Linked DNA regions of Homo sapiens. The protein of the gene in region 1 interacts with the protein of each later gene in a biochemical or structural test. Each region holds a gene or a part of one and is shown in the gene's direction. Other genes may lie near its edges.

Region 1 (8,496 bases):
ACCAAGACCAATAAGCATTTTATGACTTAACCATGGACAAAAGAGACATCCTCAAGGCTGGGCACAATGGCTCATGCCTGTAATCTCAGCACTCTGGGAAGTCAAGGTGGGAGGACCACCTGAGGCCAGGAGTTCCTGATCAGTCTGGGTGAGACTCTGTCTCTTAAAAAAGAGAGAGAGAGAGAGAGAAAGACACACTCCAAAGAGGGTGCACAAAGATTCAGCACTCTCAAATCCAGACCCCTTGCAAAGACAGTCAAAAGAAAGAAGGCACCTTTGGGTTTTTTTTTTTTTTTTGAGACGGAGTCTCGCTCTGTCACCCAGGCTAGAGTACAGTGGCGCGATCTTGGCTCACTGCAACCTCTGCCTCCTAGATTCAACCCATTCTCCTGCCTCAGCCTCCCGAATAGCTAGGATTACAGGCATGCGCCACCACACCTGGCTAATTTTTTTGTATTTTTAGTAGAGACAGGGTTTCACCATGTTGGTCAGGCTGGTCTCTAACTCCTGACCTCGTGATTTGCCTGGCTCAGCCTCCTAAAGTGCTAGGATTATAGGCGTGAGCCACCGTGCCTAGCCAGAAGGCACCTTTGTTGACACAGGTGACTAAGGATGTCATCTTGTACAGAACACTGTCACGTCTCCAGTCATGGACTGGCTCATCTATCACACCAATGAATACTGAGACAACAAAAACCCCTTATAGACTTGGCCCACTTACAAACTCCTCTGTCATGGTCAGAAAAAGAGAAGGTTCAGAACCTTCTCTTTGGCCGGGCGTGGTCCCTCATGCCTGTAATCCTAGCACTTTGGGAGGCTGAGACAGGTGGACTGAGGCCAGGAGTTCCTGACCAGCTTGGGTGAGACCCTGTATCTTAAAAATAAAAGAGGCCAGCCACGGTGGCTCATGCCTGTAATCCCAGCACTTTGGGAGGCCGAGGTGGGCAGATCACCCGAGGTCAGGAGTTCGAGACCAGCCTGACTAACATGGTGAAACCCTGTCTCTACTAAAAATACAGAAATTAGCTGGCGTAGTGGCAGGTGCCTGTAATCCCAGCTACTCAGGAGGCTGAGCCGAGATCCCGCCATTGCACTCCAGCCTGGGTGACAGAGCAAGACTCCGTCTCAGAAAAGAATTAAAAAAAAAAAAAAAAAATCACCCTGCGCAACATGATGAATCCCCCTCTTTACTAAAAATACAAAAAAAATTACCTGGACGTGGTAGTGTGTGCCTGTAGTCCCAGCTACTCAGGAGGCTGAGGCAGAAGAATCAGTTGAGCCCAGGATGCAGCAGTTGCAGTGAGCCAAGATCATGCCACCATGCCACTGCACTCCAGCCTGGGCGAAAGAGCAAGACTATTAAAACAAAACAAAAAACAAACAAACAAACAAAAACCAAACTTTCTCTTTTTCTGACCGGGACAGAGGAGTTTGTAATAATGCAAGCTGTTACTTGCAACCCTAACGCAAGCTGTCCTAAAGCAAGCTGTCACTTGCACCCACTGGCTATTCAGAGATCAGGGAGAATATTCTCACTGGTCATAAAGCCAAGCTCTCAGGACACAAATAAAACAAACAGGAAAGAGGTAGCTGTGCCTGGGAGGAAAGGATCAATAACAAACAGTTACCCCTCAACCAAATTTAAGCAAGAGTCACAATCCAGACACAATGTTTTCTTCTGCTAATTTGAATTTGGAAAGGAAGGGACAAGAAGTTTTTACCTTCCACTCTCAGCTGAGTACTACAGGCAGTGATATGGGACAGTTAACCTTGGTAAGAATGCTTACCTTTTGCCAGTTGTCCCAAGTGGGGTGTCTTTGCCACCCCACTTGTTTGTTGGGTGCCAGAAAGAGTAGGGGGAAAAGGTAATATTTTTTCCTCACGCATCACAAGGTTCCTGGTTGACACCCCTCTAACAAAGGACAGATTAACAAGAGAAAAGCATATCAATTTATTTAATATAAATTTTATATGACACAGTAGCCTTCAGAAAAAAGCCCCAGTGTCTAGTGAGGGGTCCGTTCTCTGCTTTTTTTTTTTGAGACGGAGTCTTGCTCTGTCACCCAGGCTGGAGTGCAGTGGCGCGATCTCAGCTCACTGCAAGCTCTGCCTCCCGGGTTCACGCCATTCTCCTGCCTCAGCCTCCCAAGTAGCTGGGACTACAGGCGCCCACCACCATGCCTGGCTAATTTTTTGTATTTTTAGTAGAGATGGGGTTTCACCATGTTAGCCAGGATGGTCTTGATCTCCTGACCTCATGATCCTCCCACCTCGGCTTCCCAAAGTGCTGGGATTACAGGCGTGAGCCACTGCGCCCAGCCGATTCTCTGCCTTGAAGATGGTGCTTATTACAGTGTCCTCACCTGGCAAAAGTGGGGGATGAGCTCCTTCGAACCTCTTTTATACACTGATCCCATGGTGAGGACTTCACCCTCATGACCTAAACCCCTCCCAAAGGCCCTACTTTATAATAGTATCGCACTGAGGATTCAGTTCCAACATATGAATTTTGGGGGTACCGACATTCAGACCACAGTGGCCTTCTTGTTGCTGCCCCAGGATTCCTTTTCCTCTCCTCTCTGGGTCCACCCGTACACCTGGTCCCATTGGGCCTTGGAGGTCAGTCTTCCCCTACCTGGAGCCAAGGGGGGCCTCATCTTCCCCCAGACCTGCTCTTGCTCTGGCTCCCCTGTAGGCAGGGTGGGCCTACTTCCCCACCCATCTCCTGGGCTCATTCTTCACACATCACTGGGCTTATACTGGGGAACCTGCTTCCTTCCCAGGTTTCTAGCCTGCTCCACTCTGGTCTTCACTCCCTGCCTGAGACCACAGCACTGTGGCTGGCTCCCTACTCAGTCTTCGTCTCTACCATATTGGCATCTGCCCACCCTGGCTACAGGGTGCCCTCAGGGCTAAGTCAAGCCTCCAAAGGGCAGGGTCTGCTCTCCAACCTTCCCTTCAGGCTCAGAAAATTCTGGAAACCTCCACACCACTCACTTTGAAGGATCTCACCTCCACGTTTGCTGACACTGTCGGCTTCCTGGAATGCTTTTCTTAATCCCAAAGTCCTCCTCTGTTACACAGTAGGGGGGTCTCCTCCAGAAAGTCTTTCTAGGAGGAAGCCCACTCCCATTTGGAACCTCTGCCTCTGGAGGCCAATCCCGTTCTCTTGATCCTTGTCTGGGACCCTCAGTTATCTCTCTGGACTCAGCCAGGACAGCAATTCTCTTCCGTGTATTTTCCTCCTTTTACATTCCCCTTCCACCAATTTTTTTTTTTTTTTTTTTTTTTTTTTTTGAGACGGAGTCTCGCTCTGTCACCAGGCTGGAGTGCAGTGGCGCGTGATCTCGGCTCACTGCAACCTCTGCCTCCCGGGTTCAAGCGATTCTCCTGCCTCAGGCTCCCGAGTAGCTGGGACTACAGGTGCGCGCCACCACGACCGGCTAGTTTTTTTGTGTGTGTTTTGGTAGAGATGGGGTTTCACCATGTTGGCCAGGATGGTTTCCATCTCCTGACCTCGTGATCCGCCCGTCTCGGCCTCCCAAAGTGTTGGGATTACAGGCGCCAGCCACCAAGCCCGGCCCCACCTTTCTTTTTAACCATGAGCCATCTCCAGCCACATCCTCCCCCTACCACTCTCTCCACCCTTCACAGTCCCTCTCAAAACCACAGTGTGGGACACTCCAACCTTATCCCATCAGGAGGCTCTGTGGCTCCAAGCTCTGGGCGCAGCCATTACGGATACGCCTCGGAGGATGGGACCTGCTCGAAGGTGAGGTGGAGAACAATGAATGCCAAGACCCGCGCACGGACCTCTGGGACCAGGCTTTAAGACTGGGAATTAGATTTACTGCAAAATCTCAGTAAAGGAACGGGCACACAAACTAGCACCTGTTCACTCTGGCGGTGTTAAGCGATTCTCCCCGATATCCCGCAGGGGGCGCGCTACGGTCAGCGGCACCGACCGCGGAGGGAGCGGGGAAGGAGCAGGCCGCGGGAGGGAGGGAATGAGCGCGTGACGAAGGGAACAAGTGGAGGAGAGGAGGAAAGAAGGGAATCAAAGAGGGAGGGAGGCAATGGGAGAAGAGGAGAGGGAGGGAGGGAAAGAAGGGGGGAAATGAGACAGGGAGGGAAGGAATGAGAGAGGGAGGAGAGAACGAGAGTTAAGGAGGGAGGGAAAGGGAATGAGAGAGGGAGGGGATGAGAGGGGGAGACAGGGAGGGAGTGAATGAGTGAGGGAGGAAGGGAATGGTGGGTAAGATAGGAAGGGAAGGAATGAGAGAGTGAAGGAGGGAGGGAATGAGAGGGGGGGAGTAAGAGAGGAGAGAAGAGAGTGAAGAAGGGAATGAGGAAAGGAGAGGGAGGATATGAGCGGGGAGGGAGATAGTGAGGAAGGGCAGGAGGAAGTGAGTCGAGGAATGAGGGTAGGACCGAGGCAAGGAAAGAGTCAATGGATTCAGACGGGGCGACTCTCGGCAAATTCGCTCATTCGTTGGTTCGGCCCCGCCAAGTGCCAGGTGCCGCGCTAGTGCGGGGACTCACTGAGCCTTGGCGATCGCTGCTGTCCTCCGCAGAGCGCCGGAGTGGAGCCGCCCCCTGTCTCCCCGCCCCAGGGCCGCCCCCGCGCTGCTACCCGGCCAGGCCGGGAACCCCCGGGCCTACGTCTGGCCCGCCCGGCGCCTGCGCGGCGCACCCACGTGACGGCCCAGGCCCCCGCCCCGCCGGCTCCTCTCGCCCAGCCTCCCGCCTCGCGCCTCCCGCCTCCCGCCTCCCGCCTCCCTCCAGCTGCGAGTGCGGCCTCGGCTGGCGGCGGCACCAGGTCAGCTGCGAGGCGTGAGCCGAACGGGCCGGGCGGCAGCGAACGCGGGGGTCGGGCGGCAAGCAGGCATCGCTGGGCCGGGGACAAGCTAGCGGCGCGGAGTCCGAGGGGCGCGGGGGCGGGCGCGGGCCGGAGGCTCGGGGGCGGCGACCTGAGGAGAGCCCGCGGCCTGACGTGGCGGGGACGCGGCCGGCGGGATCCCCGGGCGCGGGCGCGTAGGGGCCGGGATCTGGCGCTCGGCCAGGGGCCAGGGTGCGAGGCCTCCTCAGCGCGGCTGCTGGCGCGCCGGCCTCCTGGCACCCGGGCGGGCCCTGTTGCCTGCGGCAGGTCCGAATGCGGCCTTCCTGGCCGCGACCCTCCGCGCTGGAGCGGGCGGCCTTGCAACAGGCGGGCGATTTGGGGCCGGCCTGACGAGCCTCAGTTCCCTCGATCGGGCCCGGGGACTGCAGCCGTAGGAGCCCAGCCTTGCCAGCTCTCCCGGTTTCCTGAGAGGAGCCGGAGATCGCGCTGTCAGTGCAAAATCACCAGAGCGCGAAGCGTCGGCTGCCAGTTCTGACCATTTTAGATCCGGTGCGGGCCGAGCCGAGTGGATCTGGGGCGGGCAGCGGGGCACCGCCACCTTCCGCCTGGGCTCCTCACTGGGCGCCCTCGCTCCGGCCCTCCGCGGGGCCGAGTGCCTCCAAGACGGCTCCCTGGGAGATTCTTCCAGAGCGCACCCTTTGGAAGGCTGCCCCGCTGGGAATCAGCACCCACTCCCTCTCCTCTACCGCAGCCGCCCCCTTTGCCTTTGTGGCCGACCTTGCTTCATGCTGCCAAGGATTGAGTTTCTTTGAGGGGATACTGCTCGTTCGGGGGCCCTACAGAAGGCTGAGGGTATCTACTCAGTAAAATCGTACCGAACTGAAAGTTCCTCTGAAATGATTTTGACTCTGCCATCCATCACTTCATAAAAATTCATCTTGTATCCTTCAGTTTGTAGCTATGTGGCACATTAAGCTTCCTTTCTTCTCCCCACTGAAACTTCGAACAGTACAAAACGGGGAACTTGGCTTGTGATGACTAAAATTGGGGATATGAGACTGGGGGCGGGCGCGGTGGCTCATGCCTGTAATCCCAGCACTTTGGGAGGCCAAGGCTGGCAGATCACCTGAGGTCAGGAGAGACTAGCCTGGCCAACATGGTGAAACCCCGTCTCTACTAAAAATACAAAAATTAGCTGGGTGTGGTGACACGTGCTTGTAATCCCAGCTACTCGGGAGGCTGAGGTAGGAGAATCGCTTGAACCCAGGAGATGAAGGCTGCAGTGAGCCAAGACCCTACCACTGCACTCTAGCCTACACCATATAGTGAAACCTCTTCTCTACAAAGAAAATTTGAAAAATTAGCCGGGCGCAGTGGTGAGCTCCTGTTGTTCCAGCTTCTGAGGAAGCTGAGGTGGGAGGATCACTTGAACCTGGGAGCTTGAGACTGCAGTGAACCCCAAGCTGTCTCACCCCAGATAGCCAGGACTACAGGTGTACACCACCATGCCTAGTTAATTTTTAAATTTTTTGTAGAGAAAGGGTCGCGCTATATTGCCCAAGGTGGTCTTGAACTCCACCTACCTGGACCTCCCAAGGCACTGGGATTACAGGCATGAGCCACCATGCCCAGCCTACTTTGCACTTTTTTTTTTGGGGGGGGGGCAAAGTCTGGCTCTGTCGCCCAGGCTGGAGTGCAATGGCACAATCTTGGCTCACTGCAACCTCCACCTCCTGGGTTCAATCGATTCTCCTGCCTCAGCTTCCCCCTTCCTCAGCCTTCCCAGTAGCTGGGATAACAGGCATGCGCCACCACGCCCCACTAATTTTTGTATTTTTAGTAGAGATGGGGCTTCCTCATGTTGGCCAGGCTGGTCTTGAACTCCTGACCTCAGGTGATCCTCCCACGTTGGCCTCCCAAAGTGCTGGGATTACAGGCATGAGCCACTGTGCCCAGCCTACTTTGCACATTGTTTTTTTGTTTGTTTTTTTGTTTTTGAGACGGAGTCTCGCACTGTCATGCAGGCTGGAATGCAGTGGCGTGATTCTCCTGCCTCAGCCTCCCAAGTAGCTGGGATTATAGGCACCTACCACCATGCCCGGCTAATTTTTTTGTATTTTTAGTAGAGATGGGGTTTCACTATGTTGGCCAGGCTGGTCTTGAACTCCTGACCTCGTGATTCATCCGCCTCAGCCTCCCGAAGTGTTGGGATTACAGGCGTGAGCCACTGCGCCCGGCCACTTTGCGCATTTTGACTGTTGCCTAATGTTCTGTCAGATCACTGTGCCATGACATCTGTTCTCCTGAGGGTGGACGTTTTGGTGATTTAAAACCGTATAGATGTGGTTTTAAATGTTTTAAATGTTGCACCCTGTGCTGTGCTCCTTCCCAGCAGAGAATTGATTCATTTTTCAGCATATCCCCCTTAGCCCCTAGCTAAGTTTCTTAAATTGGACTTGGTAAATGTGCTTTGCCTGCCCATGGAAGATGTCTTTCTGTTTTACCGTACTTGTTTTTGCAGTATGGGTTTAGGGAGTAGCTGCCATTTATCCCTTCCCAAGAGAGCAGAGGCACTACTATGCTCACGGAAGGTGAGGATCCACCTGGGGGCTTGATGTCTATTGGGGTAGTTGTGGAGGTCACCCTCAGAGAAGGAGGCCCTCTTGACTCTGCGGTGGTCATGGTGGTGATGAGAAAGCTGAGGCGTGGGTATATGAGACAAGTGCCCAGAGTCTGTCATTAGCAAGTGGTACAGCCAGCCATGGGGGCTTTTGAGATGTTTGTGAGATAAAACCTCACCCCTCAAGAAGCCGGAATCTCCTTGTCGTGGGTAAATAGGCAGGTTTGGGCCGGGCGCGGTGGCTCATGCCTGTAATCCCAGCACTTTGGGAGGTCAAGGCAGATGGATCACCTGAGGTCAGGAATGCGAGACCAGCCTGACCAACATGGTGAAACCCCATTTCTGCTAAAAATGCAAGAAAATTAGCTGGGTGTGGTGGTGCACGCCTGTAATCCCAGCTACTGGGGAGGCTGAGGCAGGAGAATCACTTGAACCTGAGAGGCAGAGGTTGCAGTGAGCCAAGATCACACCACTGCACTCTAGCCTGGGTGACAGAGCGAGACTCCGTCTAAAAAAAAAAAAAAGGGCAGGTTTGAATGGTGGGGCATATTTGTCATGTTCTCTGTACAATGATAGAGGGAGAAGTAATCGAGCTAGACCTTGACCAATATGGGACTATGAGAGACAGAATGGCCTAGATGGGTGACTAAAGGTGTTCAGGGGATGACAGGTATCCCTTTTGGACTAAGGACTGCTGATGGGGCTGAGTAGGTAAGGCTTGAAGGAGAGCAGCCTGGGGAGGATGAGACAAGAGGTAGGGAAACTGGTAGGGGCATCACTGCTGTGGTCTGACCCAGAGTGGTGGCCCTGGAGGAGTGGAGGGTGGCTGTCTGAGATGGAGGAGAGGTGAAGGAATCAGAACTAGTAGGTTCATAGGGCACATGGGTTAGAAAGGAAAAATATTAAAACAGTGAGGTTTCCAAGATGGAAATGGTAGCTTTGATAGTAAAATTAGACAAGTTGGAGGGCTACTAGCTAGATTAGGCACTGAGCTGTAGGTGAAACTGGGAATGTGAACCACTGGGAAAGAAGGATG
Region 2 (7,178 bases), about 11 Mb from region 1:
TGTGAGCCACTGCCCCCGCCAGATTTCTTAACTCTGTAGCTTTAAGCGCAACTGAGTGGAAGAATATTATGTCTCTTAATTTTGTGGCAAATGAACTTAGAGTGACCACATGATTGTTTTCTGCCCTTTTCTCTCATCCAGTCCTACCTGAGAAGGCTTAGAGCTCAGAATTAAGTGCTGTCAGCAGCCTCTCTCCTATGTGTGGATGCTGCTTAGGGGCTCAGTAAGAGCTACTTAGGGGCTTTTCTTTGTAGTCTTTAAAAATGCTCTCATAGTTCAAGATTGATTTTCTTTTTCTAATTAAAGATGACAAGACCTGGTGGTACCCAGGTTGTGTGGTCTCTGAAGGCACAAATTGTGTCTTAATTGGTGCTACCTTCACACATGGCTAAGCGTATACTGGTGTTTAAATATTTACTGTGGAAAGAACAAACATGTAGTCAGCACTTGGAATCTGTTTTCAGGCTCCGTTTAAGCTCTTACTAAAAAAATCCTTCCAGGAGGAAAGGGAGCAGCTCTGATGCCAGAAGGGCAGCCCCGTTGGTGGGCTTGCTTTTTCGTTCTGAGCTTTTGCTTCTCTATAGGGCTTCTTTCTTTTTGATCCTTCTTCCTGTTGCTTTTAGAGGTTTTCCCCTTAGGGAATTTTATGTTTTAATAAGGCTATATATATATATATATATATGCATATATAAACTTTTATTAGGAAATGTTCAGACGTGCTCAAATAGAGAATAGTATCATGAACAGTTATCACCATGTTGTCAGCCTTGTTTCATGACCTCTCCCACGTTTAAATTTTGGATGGAATATTTTAAAAACAAATCCCAGGATTGGCCGGGCACAGTGGCTCACACCTGTAATCCCAGCACTTTGGGAGGCCAAGGCAGGTGGATCACTTGAGTTCAGGAGTTTGAGACCAGGCTGACCAACGTGGTGAAACCCCGTCTCTACTAAAAATACGAAAAAAGTACCCAGGCGTGGTGGTGGGCGTCTGTAATCTCAGCTACTTGGGAGGCTGAGGCAGGAAAATCACTTGAACCCAGGATGTGGAGGCTGCAGTGAGCTGAGATCATGCCACTGCACTCCAGTCTGGGTGACAGAGTGAGACTCCGTCTCACAAAAACAAACAAACAAAACAAACCCCAGGCAGCCTCTATTTTTTTTCAATAATACATACTTCAGCGTAAGTTTCTTTCTTTTTTTACATGTTATTTATTTATTTAGTGTCACCCAGCCTGGCACAAAGCTGATTAGTATATGTTTCAACAAATAAGAACTAAAAGAAAACCCATCACGGTACCATTATCATTGGTAACAAAATTAACACTAATCCCTAAATGCCCTCTAATAGCCAGTGCATAGTCAGTTTTTTGAATTGCCTCAAAAATGTGCTTTTGCAGTTAGTTTGAAATGGGACCTAAACAAGATCCACTTTTTGCATTTGGTTATAATGCCTTTTGTGTGTGTGTGTGACAGTAGAATGTCTTGCTTTCTACATTTGGCTGATTGTTGCCTTGTAGTGTTTCAGTTTTCCTCTATTCTGCAGATTCCCTGTAAACTGGCAATTATCTCTGGAAGCTTGATTAGATTTAGATTCAAATTTGAGGGCAAGTAGACTTCTTGGGCACTATGTTCTTTCTCCCACATCACATCATACCTCTCTTCTCATTCTGTTTTTAGTGATGAGAGATTAATCAGTGGGATTAGGTGGGGTCAGCCTGGAGCAGTCCTTTCTTTACAACTATGATCCTAGGACTTTGGCTGCATAATGTCTGTCATTTCCCCCCTCTCTTATATAACATCTCAAGCTGTTAAGGGTGAAGTACCGCATACAGGTTTCCCACTTGTAGATCACACTGGGGATTTTTGTTATTGGGTTCCATGTGGCTTGGGCTGGTGATGGGTTTTAGTTTTAACTCAAGGTAGGACAGCATCCCTCGCTTGATGGTAACTTTTTGTCTCTTGCCTGGCAGATCTGTGCGAGAGCGAGAGAGTCACAGTCGAAAGAGTGCCAGCTCCTGTGATGTTTCATCCAGCCCTTCCCTACCAAGCCGCACACTGCCCACTGAGGAAGTGAGGAGCCAGGCTTCTGACGACAGCTCCCTAGGCAAGAGTGCCAACATCCTGATGATCCCACACCCCCACCTGCACCAGTATGAAGTCAGCAGCTCCTTGGGATACACCAGCACTCGAGGTAAGAGTGCTGAAGCACAGACAGAGCCAGGGACATCTTTCTTAATATAGTGGGTGACTGGAGGTGGGAGGATTGGTCAGAGGTGGGGTGTAAATCCCACATCTTAATGATTTCTTTGCCAGTGCAGTAGGTACAAATCACTTTAGCTGTTAGCTATGTATATATTATACTTCTTTTTTTTTTTTTTTTTTTTTTGGTGACAGAGCACCTAGGATAAAGTGCAGTGATGCAATCACAGCTCACCTCAGTGCGGCCTTGAACTCCTGGACTCAATCGATCCTCCCACCTCTGCCTCCCAAGTAACTGGGACTATAGCATGCCACCACACCCAGCTGATTATCATATTTTTTTTTGTAGAGGTGGGGAAGTGCAGTGATGCAATCACAGCTCACCTCAGTGCGGCCTTGAACTCCTGGACTCAATTGATCCTCCCACTTCTGCCTCCCAAGTAACTGGGACTATAGCATGCCACCACACCCAGCTGATTATCATATTTTTTTTTGTAGAGGTGGGGTTTTACCATTCCCAGGCTGGTCTTGAACTCCTGGACTCGAGGGATCCACCCATTGGCCTCCAAAAGTGCTGAGATTACAGGCATGAACCAATGTTACCGCACCCTGCCTCTATTATACTATTTTTTGTTTAGCCTTTCTTCATCCATCATTTAACTGTATGCCTTTCCATATGTTAATGGAAAGCTTTTCTTAGGCCTAGGGTCAAAAGGGTTTATTTCCTTATGATTTCCATTTGTGCCATATATAAAACAACCTCTGTCTTAATGTTGCATTTTAGTTTCTCATTTACCGGTCGGGCGCAGTGGCTCACACCTGTAATTCCAGCACTTTGGGAGGCCAAGGCGGGTGGATCACTTGAGGCCAGAAGTTTGAGACCAGCCTGGTCAACATGGTGAAACGCCGTCTCTACTCAAAATACAAAAATTAGCTAGGTGTGGTGGCGGGTGCCTGTAATCCCAGCTACTCAGGAGGCTGAGGCAGGAGAATCACTTGAACCTGGCAGGCGTAGTTGCAGTGAGCCGAGATTCCACCACTGCACTCCAGCCTGGGTGACAGAGGGAGACTCCACCTCAAAAAAAAAAAAACAAAAAACTTTTTTTTTCACTTACCTGTTTTTTTTTAACTTTTATTTGCATTGATTTTGTACCGAATTTATTCCCATACTATCAGTTTTTGTTTCTTCAGTTTCTTTCTTTTCTTTTTTTTTCTTTTCTTTTTTTCTGAGACAGAGTCTTGCTCTGTTGCCCGGGCTAGGGTACAGTGGCATGATCTCAGCTCACTGCAACCTCTGCCTCCTGGGTTCAAGTGATTCTCTTGCCTTAGCCTCCCAAGTAGCTGGGATTACAGGCACACACCACCACACCAGCTAATTTTTGTTTTTTTAGTAGAGATGGGGTTTTGCCGTGTTGGCCAGGCTGGTCTCAAACTCCTGGCCTCCAATGATCCACCCACCTCGGCCTCCCAAAGTGCTGGGATTACAGGCGTGAGCCACCATGCCTGGCCTTGGGATATCTTTTTCTTCTGTGCAATGTCCTCTTCTGGTTTAGGAATAATTTATTCCTTTTCCATGAGGATCATCTTGGTTTCGCAGGGGGAGCTCATGTATGGGTTAATCTGACCATGAGCTCTTTACATCAGGCAGCACATCTTGGGTGCTTTGTTCACCTGGACATGCTCAATGACCAGAGGATCTGCACCTGAACCCTTAAGTTCGGCATGACTGTGCATTTTTAAGCATATGTAGCAATAATTCAGTACTCTTTTTTGGCCACTGACCCCGTGTGCAGCCGTGCTGTGTGGCCTGGGACCACCTACTATCTCCATCATTGTAATGTGGAAATGGTACACATTGTTTCTGTAAAGTGACATATTTCTTTCTTTCTTTCTTTCTTTTTTTTTTGTGATGGAGTTTCACTCTTGTCCCCCAGGCTGGAGTGCAATGGCGTGATCTTGGCTCACTGCAACCTCTGCCTCCCGGGTTCAAGCAATTCTCTTGCCTCAGCCTCCCGAGTAGCTGTGATCACAGGTGCCTGCCACCATGCCTGGCTAATTTTTGTATTTTTAGTAGAGATGGGGTTTCACCATGTTGGTCAGGCTGGTCTCGAACTCCTGACCTCAGGTGATCTGCCCACCTCAGCCTCCCAAAGTGCTGGGATTACGGGCGTGAGCCACCTTGCCTGGCCAAAGTGACATCTTTCATATACTTGGTGGCTTTTTATATATGCATACCCTTGATGGCCTGAGCAGTTTCATGGGTGGTTTCTTTTATTTGTTTGTTTTGAGACAGGTTCTCACTCTGTTGCCCAGGCTGTAGTGCAGTGGTACAATATTGGCTCACTACAGCCTCAACCTCCTGGGCTCACGTGATCCTCCCACTTCAGCCTCCCAAATAGCTGGGACTACAGGTGTGCACCACCACACCCGGCTAGTTTTTAAAGTTTTTGTAGGGACGGTCTCAATCTGTTGCCCAGGCTGGTCTCGAACTCCTGGGCTCAAGTGATCCTTCCACCTTGGTCTCCCAAAGTGCTGGGATTACAGGAATAAGCTACTGTACCTGGCCTGTACTCATCTTTTTTTTTTTACTAGGTTTTTCTCTTTTATTTCCTTAATAACTAACTAGACTATGTTCTTTTTTATTTTGTAAGTTAGAGCATCAATTCATTAATTTACAATGAACAGTAAAACTTTCACAGAAATCTGAACATTCTCTTCTTTCCTGCAAAGCAACTTGAGGAATGAAATACAGTATTACAGTGTATGAGGTTCTGTGCTAGGCATTGGGTAGATAATGATGGCCAAGACAAATTCCTTGGAGTTTGCATCTGCTGGACCCACTTTTTCATCTGGGTGGTTGCTTAATGAACATGGAATACACACAAGAAGAGTTGGTTGTGGATTTCAGTTCTTTGATCCACTCAGGCATGCTGTCTCTGTCTCCATAATGGGACCTGTCTACCATTGCGCCAGACAGGTGGTGTCTAAATATCATACCATCTCCTTGCCTGGTCAAGGCTGGAGGCATCCATTTCTTCGTTATTTTTTTCTCAGTAATTTTTTTAGCATAATAACATTTTATTGCTTACTCATGTCCCAGCCCACTAAGTCAGTGGAGGGGCTACTGATCCACTCAGTCCATTCAGGAACTCAGGTTCCTTCCATCCTGGGATGCCATGATTATCAACATTGGTCTCCTGGGTTGCCACAAAGGGAAAAAGAATGCAGATCATTTGTGGAGATCATTGTGGTCCAGGCCTGGATTTGAAGCATATAATTTCTACCTGGCCAGAACTAAGTCATTTGGCTTTATTGCAAAGGGTCTGGGAACTATAGTCTTGTGTCCAGTAGGAAAATCAAATGGGTTTATAGTGAAGACATTGACTAGCTCTGCCAAGATCTGCCCTTCTGGTGACCACATAGCTATTTTTATTGTTCCTCCCTCTTAGAGAATATACTCGTTCCTTTCCCAAGGGAGACAACTCAAGTCCCATCATTCAGTCATTGCTTCCAGCTCAAAGTTCAGGATCTTCAGGCAGTGTCCTTCCCATCAGATTTGGTTGTGACTTCATTTTGCCAGTAATTTAGAACCAAAACTCCCTTCTCCCAAGTATTTAAAAGCAAACAAATGCAAACATATTTCATTTCTTTATAGTTTGACAGTTTTGCTCATTTCTCTCACTCCCTGACATTTATAATGCCCAAGATTCTTGTCAGCCTTGGTTTATCATTCTACCTAGCTCTGGTTTCACTGTGGTTCTGTGGTTTTTCTTTGTGACTCAACTCCATGATAACTGGCAGATGTCCTGGAGAACATGATGGAGCCACCACAGCGAGACTCCAGTGCACCAGGGAGGTTTCACGTTGGCAGTGCAGAATCCATGCTGCATGTTCGACCTGGTGGATACACGCCCCAGAGAGCACTGATTAACCCCTTCGCTCCCTCTCGGATGCCCATGAAGCTTACGTCCAACAGAAGGCGCTGGATGCACACTTTTCCTGTGGGTAAGTTGGTTGCTTAAGAGAGAGCCTTGGACTAGGAGCTCCTAGCCCTGGTCCTCAGTGTCGGTCACCCATGTGTCCTTGGTCAGGTGCCTCTGTTGCTCCACCTGTAAGATGGGATAACCATGCCCACTTTGGCCATCCCAGGGGTTCTTGTAAAGATCCTTGAAGATGCACTTGGGAATAGGCTTTGTAACTAATTAGCTGTATAAACCTGAGGGCTTTTTTGTTTGTTTCTGCCCTTTTTTTTTTTTTTTTCTTTTGAGACAGGGTCTCACTCTAGTTGCCTAGGCTGGAGTGCAGTGGTGCAGTCTCAGCTCACTGCAGCCTCAACCTTCAGGGCTCAGGTGATTCTCCCACCTCAGCCTCCCAAGTAGCTGGGACTGTAGGTACGTGCCACCAGGCCTGGCTAGTTTTTTGTATTTTTAGTAGAGACAGGGTTTCACCATGTTGCCTAGGCTGGTCTTGAACTCCTGGACACAAGCAATCTGCCCACCTTAACCTCCCAGAGTGCTGGGATTATAGATGTGAGCCACCGCATCCGGCCCTTTGTTTCTATTTGAGAGGAACTATGCATTGCCACCTGCTTTCTTTCCTAAGTCAGATGTCCCTCATTCTTGTTCATTCCTTCTTCTCTTAGATCTCTTGGATATTGATATCCTGTCTTGGTTACAAGGAGTTATGTTGTTTTGTTTTCTGTTAGGTCTCTCTGACAACTGAAAAAAAATTTTCCCCTGAATTCACTTTTTCCTAGTCCATTCTTTTTTATCTATATTCTGTTCTCAAGAAGATGACAGTAAGATTGTCTCAAGCTGTGGCTAAAATTAAACTTTAGCTTAATGGGCTCTTATTGAGCTGGAAAGGAACAAATGCATTAAACTCCAGGATTTTGTGTGTGTGTGTGTGTGAGACAGTGTCTCACTCTGTTACGTAGGCTGGAGTACAGTGGCGTGATCTCAGATAACTGCAACCTC
Region 3 (7,178 bases), on another chromosome or scaffold:
GAGTTTTTTTTTTTTAATGTATTAACAAAAACAATGGATCTTATGTTCTCCATATATGTGGTGAAACAGTTGTACCTTTATTCTAGTGACGGTGTAGATTGGTGCAGCTCTTTGGAAAATGTGAAGTTATTAAAGTGTTCCTGCCCTTTGGTGCTATGACAATCTCCCCTCTGGGAATTTATCCTAAGAAAATAATTCAAAAGAGGAGGAACCACTCCATGCACGATGATGTTATTGAAACTATGTGTAGGCCAGGTGCGGTGGCTCACGCCTATAATCCCAGCACTTTGGGAGGCCAAGGCAGGTGGCTCACCTGAGTTCAGGAGTTCAAGACCAGCCTGGCCAACATGGTGAAACTCCGTCTCTACTAAAAATACAAAAAATTAGCCAGGCATGGTGGCACGCACCTGTAGTCCCAGCTACTCGGGAGGCTGAGGCAGGAGAATCGCTTGAACCCAGGAGGCAGAGGTTGGAGTGAGCCAAGAAATGCACCGCTGCACTCCAGCCTGGGCAACAAGAGCGAAACTCCATCTCAAAAAAAAAAAAAAAAAGAAACGGTGTAAACAGTTTTTAAATTTGGTTTTATTTAAAGTTTAGGAGCAGGGAAATGGCTGACTTATATCTTATAATACATCTTAGGTAATATTCACTCATAGTTTAAGAATATATTACAATGGGTAAATTATATCTTCTTTTTTTTTGGTTTTTTTTTTTTTTTTTTTTTTTTTGAGACAGAGTCTCGATCTGTCACCCAGGCTGGAGTGCAGTGGTGCGATTTTGGCTCACTGCAACCTCTGCCTCCCAGGTTCAAGCAATTCTCCTGCCTTAGCCTCCTGAGTAGCTGGGATTACAGGCGCCCGCCACCACACCCAGCTAATTTTTTTGTATTTTTAGTACAGACGGGGTTTCACCTTGTTGGTCAGGCTGGTCTCAAACCCCTGACCTCGTGATCCACCCGCCTCGGCCTCCCAAAGTGCTGGGATTACAGGCGTGAGCCACCGCGCCCGGCCGTCAATATATCTCCTTATGAAATATTCAGTGATGGAAAACAGTTCTGAGACTATATTGCAACATGGGAAAAAGTTAAAGATTTTGTTGTAAAGAAAGAAAAAATGCTTTACCCATTCTAGGTACTAACCGTTCCCCTCAGTAAACTTCCTATTTCCTAGAGTGATGTCTTTGTTCTGGTCCTTTTATCTGGAATACACTGATCTCCTCCCTGCTTAAGTGTCACTGCAGTTCTGTGGCTCTCTCTGAAAGTCTCCTGTGTGCCACTGTTTCGTACATAACATCCATCCCAAGTGGCTAGCAGTGCATCGGAAGGACTTGCGCTGCTACTGTCCCTGCCAGAGGGCTGTTCACCCCTCCCTTTGGTCACCCCACTGCCCAGCATATGCCTTGTCAGTTAAAAAAATAAAAGTTTTCTCAAGCTCTCTCCCTCTAGTTTCCCCCTGCCCCTGTTTGGCACTATCAGGACCCACATCATGACCCTGCCATGTTTCCACTGTCCCTCATCCCCCCAGTGCCCTCACTTCCCTCCTTATCTAACTTAAATTCCGTGCTCCATCATTACAGTCACTCCCCAGTCTTGTTTCCTTTGTCATACTCCTTTGTTAACACCTAAGCCCTGATTAAATCCCAGCAGCCCTGATTAAATCCCTGATTAAATCCCGTGCCTCTACCCTGTAGGAGGCCCTGCTGGCAGTTCACACCCTGACCACTAACCTCAAGTAGGCGCTCAGAGCTGCCCAGCAGTCATACTGCTTTTCCGTGTTTCATTCATTCTCCCCGTCTCCTGAGTGATTACATCACATTTTCTCCTCTTCTCACTGCCCTGCATTCCAGCTCATGACCTGCTATCTGTTCACAGATAAAACTGATGCAGCCTGGGAGCTTCCGCATCTACCCAGCTCCTGGTACCTGTACCCAGTCCTGTGTCATCTCTCTTCGAATAGATCAGCTCTTTGTGCTTTCATTTCTTAGGTCCAGTTCTTGTTGTGGGCATTGGATGGTTTTTCCTCAGATACACTGCTCTAGCAAGTCTGCTCCTCTCTCCTACATCAGCAGTTTCCCTCTGAGTCATTCCCCTCAGCTTACCAAATGCTGTTTTAAAAAATGTATAAATCTTAATCCCACTTCCCCTTCCAGTATTGCCATTTGTTTCCTGTAGAGCAAACCTCCTTGGAAGAGTTGTATATACTCAGCCTCCAATTCTTCTTTACTTGAACCTACTCCACCAAGACTATTCTTGTCAAGACAGCCAGTGACACCAGCATTGCCAAATCCAGTAGCTATTTTTCAGTCCTCATCTTGCTTGACCTATCAGCAGTTCTTGTTACAACTGACACTCCCACCTTGAAACATTTTCTTCTCTTAGCTTCCAGGATACCACATTCTCCTGGTTTTCTCCCTACCTCACTAAACATTTCTTCTCAATTGCCTCTTGCTGGTATCTCTTCAACTCTTCACTCTCCTAACATTGGAAGGCCTGCGTCCCTAAACCACTTCTCTATCTAGATTGAAAACTTCAATGATCCACTTAGCCTTGTGGTTTGAAGTCCATGTATATACACTCTCTTCCCACTACAATATAAAGTCTGTGAGAACAGAATTTTGATTTTATTCTCTACTATGTCCCCTAGTACCTGGAAGAGTATGTACTCAGTAAGTGTCCAAACTATATCAGTGACCCATTTTAAGTTTTTATCGGGCATATGTGTTTTGTAGCTCTGTATGTCACCTTAAGAGTGGTAGTGAGTTAATTGTCCTTAATTTTTTAGAAAGCATTCCAAGAAACAAATTAGGAAAGAGAGAACTGACTTGATGGTGGAGGCCCTGAGTCATATCCCAGCTCTGAAAATAGCTATCTGTAACCTTGGCCATCTTCTCTGGTCCTTAGTTTCCTCATCAGTAAAATTAAAACGCTGCTGAGATCTACACAGCTTTAAAAGTTGCTGGCACTACTGAATAGATACACAGAATTCTACCCCAAAGCCGCTATGGGGTTTAATCAGATTCCTTTCTGTGTTCTGTGTGGTGTCCCTGTTCTCTGGGGAGCTGAGGCGAACGCACCGTGGCATGAACAGTGTAACACATTGCTCAGTGCATCTGCGTCTCCATGAGTGGAGGGTGCTCATCTCACTCCATGCCCTCATGTCTCTAGGTCCAAAAACTGTCTTCATTGTTGTACTATAATCTTATTTCATGAGTATTTGTTTGCTGTCAAATATAATAAAAATAAATTGTGATCAACAAGCAACTGCTTCAGTAAGTATCAAGATACTGTATCTTTGATACTGTGCAGAAATGACATATCTTAGCTAAAAGACAAAAAATTCTGTCTGGTTGTATATTGACTTGAGAATCCTTTGTCATCTTATACAGGGACACAAAGCAGGTCTTTGTGGTTTTGTTAAACTTGTGTTCTTTTCCCTAATAGGGTGCATCTGAGAAAGACATCGTGCACTCTGGCTTGGCATACACAATGGAGCGTTCTGCCAGGGTATGTGTGCAGATGCTGTTTGCCTTCCAGCTAGTCACATGAAGTGCAACTCAACCATGCTATCTCAGCCGCCAGACTGTATGTGCTGATAGAAAACATCAATCTGTTCAATGGTCCTCATTTGTGTGTAGCAAAACACATGTTTTTTCAGTCTCAGATGATAAGCAATTTTTTAGAGTCTTCAAATATGTTTTTGAGGCTTTGGAAAGAAATAATAAGGCTGATTTAGGAGGTAATGATGTTGGCAGCTAGCCCAGTATGGAGTAGTTAGCCAAACTGGATTGTAGCTCCATGTGCCACTATGTTATAGCTACGGGAGTCTACCTTACTATAGAATTTGGTATAAGCAAAACTTATTTTGACTGCTTGATCCCTACTTTAAGGCCTCAACCACAGTTTGAGTCCAGTTTTCCTAATTTCTTCTTGGGTTCAGATTCTATCTGCTTGGATTTATGATGAAATAGCATAAGCAGATATTGGTGAAGAAGGTGGTGCTTCTTAGGGCTGTTGTTTTTCTTGTTAATTTTTGATCGAGATAGGGTGTATGTGGTATAAATTCATCCTTTCAAAGTATTAAATTCGGCATCCTTTATTATATATTTGAGCCATCACCACTTTATAATTCTAGAACATTTTCATCACTCCCTTTTTTTTTTTTTTTTTTTTTTTTTTGAGACGGAGTTTTGCCCTGTTGCCCAGGCTAGAGTGCAGTGGCGCACTTTCAGCTCACTGTAACCTCCACCTCCCAAGTTCAAGCAATTCTTGTCCCTTAGCCTCCCGAGTAGCTGGGATTACAGGCATGAGCCACCATGCCCAACTAATTTTTGATTTTGTTTTCATTTTGTTTAGTTTTTTGAGATGGAGTTTCGCTCTGTCACCCAGCTGGAGTGCAATGGTGCAATCTCTGCTCACTGCAACCACCGCCTCCTGGCTTCAAGCAATTCTCCTTCCTCAGTCTCCCGAGTAGCCGGGATTACAGGCGCCCACCCCCACACCCGGTTAATTTTTTGTATTTTTAATAGAGATGGGGTTTCACCATATTGGTCAGGCTGGTCTCGAACTCCTGACCTCAAGTGATCCACCTGCCTCAGCCTCCCAAAGTGCTGGGATTACAGGTGTGAGCAACCGCACCCCTGCCTAATTTTTGTATTTTTAGTAGAGACAGGGTTTTACCATGTTGGCAAGTCCGGTCTTGAACTCCTGAGCTCAAGTGATCTGCCTACGTCGGCCTCCCAAAGTGCTGGGATTACAGGCGTGAGCCACCGCACCCAGCCACCCCATTGTTAAGTCCAGAGAATTAGGCCCTCCTGCCTAGAGGTTCTGCTGCTAGAGTAGTTTGTCTTTGGCTGCCCAAGTCCTGCCTTGAAACAATGAGAGGGTAACTTGGACCAGGCCTGTCTGGGCCTTGTGTGTTTATGGCCTGGCCACTTGAGTCAGGATCATCTTCACTGCATTTTCTCTTTCATTTCAGCAAATTATGCGCACAGCCATGAAGTATAACCTGGGATTGGACCTGAGAACAGCTGCCTATGTTAATGCCATTGAGAAAGTCTTCAAAGTGTACAATGAAGCTGGTGTGACCTTCACATAGATGGATCATGGCTGACTTCCTCACTATCCTCTTCACATGTAACTTCTGCAGACCTATCACAAGTTTACATGTAACCACAGAAATCCCTTTCTCTCCTGACTCATTAATAATGGATACCATTCTCAACAAGTCAATCCAAGTCAGCCCGTTAAGGAGAAAGAAATTAAGGTTAGCGGATCATGTACAAGCTGAGTGTGAAAGTAGAAATCACCTACACCAGAGAGCCATTTTGGTATTTTGCCTTTAAATAAAAAGCCTCCTTTATCTGGCTGTGCAGCCTTGCTCTGTGGCTTTTCCCAACACAATCAGTGCTAGTGCTGGGGAGGAACAGTCAAGAGCAGTCAGTTGCTTGCTTATTTTTTCTGGATGAGTCTGGGACACACTGTAACTTTAACACATTTAAGAAGTAGGTGTGTGGCCTTTTCAGAAGGTGGCATGGTCCTCAAGTGAGTTCTTAGTATTTTATATCAGCAAAATAATTCAATTTTGCAGGTTGCAAACAAATATAAAACCTGTTTCTGTTTATGAATATTATTCTTTTAGAATAGAATAAGTACATGCTGCTGTAATAAAATTGCCTTTAATCACTTAACAAGCCTAACCTTGACTCAAACAGTGAATGCCTATAGAAATAATAAATGAAAAAAACTAGTATTTTTATATCATAAAACAATGTCATTTATAGCTTATCATTCATGTATTGTCCAGCAGACATTAAAAGCCCTGTGGATAATTAAGTTATCTTCATACCTGCAAAATGGTGGAGGCTATTTTCATTAAAACTGTCAGAATTTGCTTACTATAATTATGATACAGTCCAAAGAATGCAGTCACTTTTTATCATGTTAACTAATTGTTCTCTTTTGAAGATCTATGGTTGACTAATTAAACAATAATTCAAGTAGAGTGTCCCAGAAAAAAACCACTTGGGCTCCCTGTTTGGAGTCTGGCTGGCTCTGAGCATTGCCAATGGCCCCTACTCACCTGACTTTGTATCCTCTCCTTTTAGAGGCTTTGCATTCTGCACCCAGCTTCACTAACAGTGGGCTGAAAACATCCTTGGGTTGAGTGTTTCATTTGGGAGTTATTTGGCCAGGGCCTTTTGAACAGTAGTGTCCCCATGAAGTGCTAGATAATATATGTGTAAGAGTCAGCTTTTTTTTTTTTTTTAACTCTAACACCCTTCAGAAATTTCTAACTACTTTGTAACTGCATGGCTTAACCTGGTGATAAAAGCAGTTATTAAAAGTCTACGTTTTCCAAAACTTACGTTTCTTTTCTGTGTTTTTACATGTGGTAGTTTCTCTTTTCATAAGTTATAATACTGCAATTGGATTTCTGAAATGTTTATAGCGACCACCTGTATAACATTTCCTTCCACTTTATTGTGAGCTGCCCAGATTTTATTCTTGAATTGTTTTTTTTTTTTTTGTTCGGTGCTTTACACGTTCAGAGAAACTTCCCGAGTAACGAACTATAGAAATGATCCCTGAAAGCATAGTCTTTATTCTCGAATTATTTTGTATTTTATTAAATAATATGAACAGCTGTTCTTGAGAAAGAGGCTCTAATGTTGAAAGCTGATAGTGAAGTAACTTTTAGTGCCGTTTTTCACTAAAGGGGATTTAATGTGGAATAATTTAGCCACAGAATGTAACAACTATTGAAGAGAGAATACTAACTGTAATCAGAACTGGATTCTAGACTTGATTCCACCAGTTACTTAACTGCCAGTGTGAAGCCTGGCTTTCATTTGGTCTTTGTCCGTATGTCACAGTTCTGCCTCTGCATGCTCCTGGCATAGGGTCAGTCAGATAAACAGGCCCCCAGTATATGGGCATAGTGAGCCCTTCCCCAGCATGGTGGTGTCTATCTGCACTCTAGGTGGGCTACTAAAATGTGTAAGGGGGAAAGTGATACAAAAACCAGTTCCAGAATGTTAGAATAATGGTGGGGCAGCAGATTTAAGTCATGTGAATGTGGGATAAGTCTTAGTGGTGGCCTTTGACTATATATTGGAAATACTGATTTTTTTTTGGTTGGGGGGTTGGTTTTTGTTTTTTGAGACAGTGTCTTGCTCTGTCA

What was found. Proteins that work in one complex are often made in the same cells at the same time.
Region 2: the proteins of KLHL22 (region 1) and DEPDC5 form a complex in vitro, tested with the Homo sapiens proteins (one study listed by BioGRID).
Region 3: the proteins of KLHL22 (region 1) and GLUD1 are reported together in a solved structure, tested with the Homo sapiens proteins (one study listed by BioGRID and IntAct).

What each region holds. Positions count from the first base shown.
Region 1 is NC_000022.11:20,492,083-20,500,578, reverse strand, and holds the start of KLHL22 (kelch-like protein 22), read left to right. Parts: upstream 1-4,783; 5' UTR 4,784-4,819; intron 4,820-7,014; exon of another isoform or gene 7,015-7,320; coding exon of another isoform or gene 7,321-7,431; intron 7,432-7,437; exon of another isoform or gene 7,438-8,496. UniProt on the Homo sapiens protein: Substrate-specific adapter of a BCR (BTB-CUL3-RBX1) E3 ubiquitin ligase complex required for chromosome alignment and localization of PLK1 at kinetochores.
Region 2 is NC_000022.11:31,813,019-31,820,196, forward strand, and holds part of DEPDC5 (GATOR1 complex protein DEPDC5), read left to right. Parts: intron 1-1,973; coding exon 1,974-2,194; intron 2,195-2,397; coding exon of another isoform or gene 2,398-2,411; exon of another isoform or gene 2,412-2,973; intron 2,974-6,003; coding exon 6,004-6,207; intron 6,208-7,178. UniProt on the Homo sapiens protein: As a component of the GATOR1 complex functions as an inhibitor of the amino acid-sensing branch of the mTORC1 pathway.
Region 3 is NC_000010.11:87,049,666-87,056,843, reverse strand, and holds the end of GLUD1 (glutamate dehydrogenase 1, mitochondrial isoform a precursor), read left to right. Parts: intron 1-3,439; coding exon 3,440-3,502; intron 3,503-4,973; coding exon 4,974-5,093; 3' UTR 5,094-6,642; downstream 6,643-7,178. UniProt on the Homo sapiens protein: Mitochondrial glutamate dehydrogenase that catalyzes the conversion of L-glutamate into alpha-ketoglutarate. Plays a key role in glutamine anaplerosis by producing alpha-ketoglutarate, an important intermediate in the tricarboxylic acid cycle.